2 separate regions of the Homo sapiens genome follow, and region 2 is linked to region 1. The links come from fine-mapping of genetic effects on gene expression. A gene starts in region 1. The other region holds a variant in brackets. All regions are shown on one strand. Distances are from middle to middle.

Evidence for each region. PIP is the estimated chance that this variant, and not a neighbour inherited with it, causes the effect.
Region 2: its variant is the best candidate, but not a certain one, in a credible set for the expression of SPPL2B in minor salivary gland (GTEx, PIP 0.88).

Annotation. Positions count from the first base shown.
Region 1 is chr19:2,327,656-2,330,561 of GRCh38, reverse strand. SPPL2B (signal peptide peptidase like 2B) reads right to left here and starts at 1,878. Exons shown (of 15, transcript NM_152988.3): 1 at 1,787-1,878. The coding sequence starts at 1,852. LSM7 (LSM7 homolog, U6 small nuclear RNA and mRNA degradation associated) reads left to right here and starts at 1,976. Exons shown (of 4, transcript NM_016199.3): 1 at 1,976-2,001; 2 at 2,085-2,175. The coding sequence starts at 1,996. RefSeq lists silencers at 1,592-1,851, 2,872-2,906 and enhancers at 2,062-2,111, 2,122-2,171, 1,607-2,261, 2,542-2,601.
Region 2 is chr19:1,700,828-1,703,733 of GRCh38, reverse strand. No RefSeq gene overlaps it. Among named protein-coding and RNA genes, the nearest start is that of TCF3, 50 kb to the right of the region's middle. The variant G/A (reference allele first, on the strand shown) is at 1,782.

The DNA of each region.
Region 1 (2,906 bases):
CCACAGCCCACCCCTTGCCAACCCCAAATAACCTGCCAGCTCTCACACCTCCCAGCCCCCGCTTATGCTGCTTCTGGTGCTTCCAACACCCTTCCCCTCCTGCCGACCCGGCAAACTCCTACTCATCATTCAGAACACCTGCCTCGGGGCCGGGCACGGTGGCTCACGCCTGTCATCCCAGCACTTTGGGTGGCCGAAGCAGGTGGATCACCTGAGGTCTGAAGTTCGAGACCAGCCTGACCAACATGGTGAAACCTCGTCTCTACTAAAAAAAAAAAAAAAAAAATTTAGCCAGGAGTGGTGGCATGCACCTGTAATCCCAGCTATTCGGGAGGCTGAGGTGGGAGAATTGCTTGAACCGGGAGGCAGAGGTTGCAGTGAGCCTAGATCATGCCACTGCACTCCAGCCTGGGCGACAGAGCGAGACTCCGTCTCAAAAAAAAAAAATAGATCTGCTTCGGAAAAGCCTTCCCAGGCAAACTGAGTCCCTCTCTCCACAGAGTTCTGTGATCTTTCTTCCACCTCTGGCTTTCCCCCTCCTTCCAAATGTCTGGGGAGCTCTAGGTGCCTGGCTGCAGAATGGGGGGAGTCCAAAGGGGGCTGACAGAGCAGCTGGGGGTAGGACTGGGGTTCTCAGAAAGCTTCCGAGGGGGCCCGACAGCCTTGCAGAGACCAGGGGCATCTCAGGGTAAGAGAAAAGACTAGAGAGTGAAGCGACTGCAATGAGCTGCAGGCTTCCCCAGCAGCCAGGTCACAACTGGACGGCGCACTCATCTGGATGCGACACGGTCTGACATACTTTGAAAGGGTCACCCCTGCTGTGTCGAGGATGGACTGGGGATGTGGTGGACAAAGGCAGCCACAGCAGAGGGATAGCGGTGGGGCTGGAGGAGTGGAGACTGAGGAGCCAGGTGGCGGCGACGCCTTAAGAGTGAGAACTCTGAGGGGGTAGTGAAGGTTAAGGGCTGCATTTGTGGGGCTGCTCCAGGTTCCATTGCCTGAGCCACCGAACTCAGGAGAGAGGGAAGATTTGGAATTAAGAAAATAAAAGATGCAGTTATGACAGTGCGATCTCGTAGACTGTCCCCACTAGAACCTGACACTCTTTACATCAAATGACACACAATGAACATAATGAAGGCCTGTTGGCCCTGGGCGCTGGTCACCCTGGACAGAACCTCCAGAATCCACACCATAGTCGGTCCTCCTTCTGCACACGAATTCCATCGTCCAAGGTCACGGAGTAAAAGATGGAGCGGGGATCCGACCCCAGTGCAGGGCTGGACTCCTGGCCGCTCCAGGATGCTGCCAGTTACTGGGGGACGCGCGGGACGCCTCTGGGTTCCCCCACCGCACCCCCTAGGGTGAGGTTAGCTTAGCACCGTGCCCGTTCCGCCTAAGGGGAAACTGAGGCTCGGAGAGGGGTGGGCAGCCGCCTGCTCAAGGCCACAGAGCCGGAGAGAGGCGTCCCCGGCGGCAACTGGAGACCCCGAAACGGAGAAGCAGAACCGGAGGATGGAGGGGGCACAAATTTCAGACCCGGTGGGAAGTGAGTGGCGCTGCAGCGGCGGAGGGCCTCCGAGGCGGGGAAAGGAGAGGAGCCGGGGACAGACCCGCAAGGTCACGGCCGAGCCCCGGCACCGCCGGCCGACAACGCGGGGACGGCGGATCCCCGAGGCTGGACCCCCAAGACGGGCCGAGCGGGGTCGTTCCTGCGCGTAGCCCGGGGACAGAGAGGCCGAAGGGCCGCAGCCCGCGGTGCCGTCGGGACCGGTGCCGCGCTCACCTGGGCCGCGAGGAGCAGAAAGGCCGCCAAAAGCCGCGCCAGCGCAGCCGCCACCGCTGCCGCCATGTCGGCCGGTGCCCGCCGCAACCAACGGCAGATGTTTCCCAGCAACGCCCCGAGACCCCGGGCCACGCATGCGCCGCGCATGCGCGTGGGGGAGGTCAAAGGGCGCGGGGCGGTGCCTGCGAAGAGCCACACGGCGCGACAAGATGGCGGTGAGCGCGCGGCGGAATCTGGAGCCGGGGGGCGTGGAGCTCGGGCCGCGCTCCAGGTCTCATGCGCTCTGCTTTCCCCGCAGGATAAGGAGAAGAAGAAAAAGGAGAGCATCTTGGACTTGTCCAAGTACATCGACAAGACGATCCGGGTAAAGTTCCAGGGAGGCCGCGAAGGTGAGGAGGCTCCCGCTGTCGGTACCCCCTCTTTAAAAATTTCAAATAAACCCAGCAACAGAGATGATGAGGACGCATGCGGAAGCACCTCTTTTATTTATTTTCATTATTTTTTTTGAGACGCAGTCTCGCTCTGTCACCCGGGCTGGAGTGCAGTGGTGCGATCTCAGCTCACTGCAACCTCCGCCTCCCAGGTTCAAGTGATTCTTGTGCCTCAGCCTCCCGAGTAGCTGGAATTAATGTGTACCACCACGCCCGGCTAATATTTGTATTTTTAGTAGAGAGGCCATGTTGGCCAGGATGGTCTCAAACTCCTGGCCTCAAGCGATCTGCCTGCCTCAGCCCCCTAAATTGCTGGGATTTCAGGCATGAGCCACCATGCCCAGCCTAGCATTTTTGACTGGGCAAGTGAGCTGCCTTCTCCTAGCCTCCGTTTCCTCATTTGTCAAATGGGGCTGGTAACTCCACCCACTTCACAGGGGGTGGTGAGAATGAATGGTTACAGGCATGTAATGTAATTGAGGCAGCTCTCAGCAGGAAGTAAGCAGTCAGACAACACGTCACTTATTCAATAGCCTCTTGGATCTTTGGTTTCTTTTTTTTGTAAGACGGGGACCCAAACCTCTTTGTCCCTGGATTGTAGACAACTGGGTGGCATGAGAGTTATTAAAAATCACAGTGCCCCAGCCGGACGGGGCGGCTCACGTGTGTAATCCCAGCAATTTGGGAGT
Region 2 (2,906 bases), 630 kb after region 1:
ACCCCGTCTCTATTAAAAATACAAAAAATTAGCCAGGCATGGTGGCGGGCGCCTGTAGTCCCAGCTACTCGGGAGGCTGAGGCAGGAGAATGGCATGAACCTGGGAGGCGCAGCTTGCAGTGAGCTGAGATCACACCACTGCACTCCAGCCTGGGCGACAGAGCAAGACTCCGTCTAAAAATATATATATTTAAATATATGTATTTATATATATAAATACATATATTTATATATGAAATATACATTTATATATAAATACATATATTTATATATGAAATATACATTTATATATAAATACATATATTTATATATGAAATATATATTTATATATTATATAATTATATAAACTATATAATTTTTAATATATTTATTATATATAATTATATTATATATACTATATATAATATGTGATATACATAATATTATATATTATATATATATAACAACTCCCATTATTGGCATGGATGAGAGTAAATGAACAGGCTGATGTACAATGGAAGGATATGTATTTTATGAAGTTTCAGAGATAATTTGATAAAATGTATCAAAAGCCTTACTATTTGTTTTATGGTCTCTTGACAAGCAACTCCAGGATGAATTTGTCCTGAAGAAAAACTTCAGAGAGTGTAAGAGATTCATGTCCAAGGATGCTCATTGTTGCGCCTTTTCTTTTCTAAAAAAAATTTTCGGCCAGGTGCAGTGGCTCATGCCTGTAATCCCAGCACTTTGGGAGGCCGAGGTCAGGAGTTCGAGACCAGCCTGGCCAATATGGTGAAACCCCGTCTCTACAAAAATACAAAAATTAGCTGGGCATGGTGGCGAGCGCCTTTAATCCCATCTACTCGGGAGGCTGAGGCAGGAGAATCGCTTGAACCCGGGAGGCAGAGGTTGCAATGAGCCGAGATCATGCCACTGCACTCCAGCCTGGGCGAACAGAATGAGACTCCGTCTCAAAAAAAAAAAAAAAAACAAAACAAAACTTCTGGAGATGGGGCCTTGCTACGTTGGCCAGGGTGGTCTCGAACTCCTGAGCTCAAGCAATTCTCCCACCTTGGCCTCCCAAAGCGCTGTGATTATACGCATGAGCCACTGCGCCTGGCCTGTGGTGTCTTCTTCTCTTCTCTTCTCTTTTCTCTTCTCTTCTCTTCTCTTCTCTTCTCTTCTCTTCTCTTCTCTTCTCTTCTCTTCTCTTCTCTTCCTCTTCTTCTCTTCTCTTCTCTTCTCTTCTCTTCTCTTCTCTTCTCTTCTCTTCTCTTCTCTTCTCTTTAGATACAGGGTTTCCGTCTGTCGCCCAGACTGGAATGCGGTGGTGTGATCTCAGCTCACTGCAGCCTCAACCTCCAGGCTCAAGCGATCCTCCCGCTTCAACCTCCTGAGTAGCTGGGTTTATAGACAAGAGCCACTGTGCCTCGCCCAAGGTAACAAGTGAAAATTGTAGACATTTTGGAAAATACTGATACTGCAGCTGGATTTGAATTTCCACCCCACCTTCACTCAATTGTTCTTGCCATTTAAGTACAGTTTCCTAGTTATTTTGTTTGTTTTCTGTTTTTTTTTTTTTTTTGAGATGGAGTCTCGCTGTGTTGCCCAGGCTGGGGTGCAGTGGTGTGGTCTCGGCTCACTGCAACCTCCATCTCCCGGGTTCAAGCGATTCTCCTGCCTCAGCCTTCTGAGTAGCTGGAATTACAGGTGCACACCACCACGCCCAGCTAATTTTTGTATTTTTAGTAGAGACGGGGTTTCACCGTGTTGGCCAGGTTGGTCTTGAACAGACTGGTCTC[G/A]AACTCCTGACCTCAGGTGATCCACCCACCTAGGCCTCCCAAAGCGCCGGGATGACAGGTGTGAGCGACCGTGCCCAGCCCAGTTTCCTAGTTCTTGTACTGCAAGTGTCTTGGCCGTTAAGGGGCCCTTGCCTGTCTCCAGGAAATGGTGTTGTTTCCTCAAACTCACCCCCACTTTGCAGACGAGAGCCCTGAGGCTCCAGGGTCCCACTGTGAGGGACACTCCAACCTGGGAGGGTGTGACTCCCCCCGCACAGTGCTCTTTCCACCACCTGAGGCTGTGGATTCCGGCCGGGGGGCTGGGGAAAGGAGGGGAGACTGCTTTCATCTGCCCACTGGCGAGGGACCCCACCTCACAGCCGGTGAGGGGCCAACCAACCCGTGCCAGGAAGTGGGCCATGGCGGGAAGTCTGTGGGGCCGGGACCCGCCCGGAATACAGACGCAGCTGCAGCGTCGGAGTGGCCCAAATCGGATTCTCCGGGGAAATCTGAAGCCTCTGATGTGTGGGGAAGGTTCAAACTTGAACAAAGGCTGGGTGGACAGGAGACTCGGCCAGGGCCGGGCGGGGGCCAGGAGCCACGGGGGTGATCCTGAGTCTGCCCGTCCTCAGCTGTGATGGGGGCTCCCCAGGGCACCTTCTGGGGGAGATCTCAGGTCCTGCTTTGGGTTCTGTGATGGAGAGGGGGGAGCAAAGAGAGAGAGGGAGGAGGAGAGAGGGAGACAGAGAGACAGAGAATGAGATAGAGACAGAGAGAGAGAGAGGCAGAGACAGAGAGACAGAGACAGACACAGAGACAGAGAGAAAGATAGAGGCAGAGAGAGACACAGAGAGACAGAGAAAGAGACAGAAAAAGACAGAGACACAGACAGAGAGAGGCAGAGAGTGAAATAGAGAAGAGATAGAGACAGAGAGAGACACAGAGAGACAGAAACAGAGATAGAGGCAGAGAGAGACAGAGAGTCAAAGACAGAGATAGAGAGATAGGAAGAGACACAATCAGAGAGAGGCAGAAACAGAGAGACAGAGAGACAAAAAGACACAGAGACAGAGGCAGAAGAAATGGAAACTAAGAGGGAGAGACAGAGACCCACAGAGACATAGAGAGACACGGAGAGATAGAGAG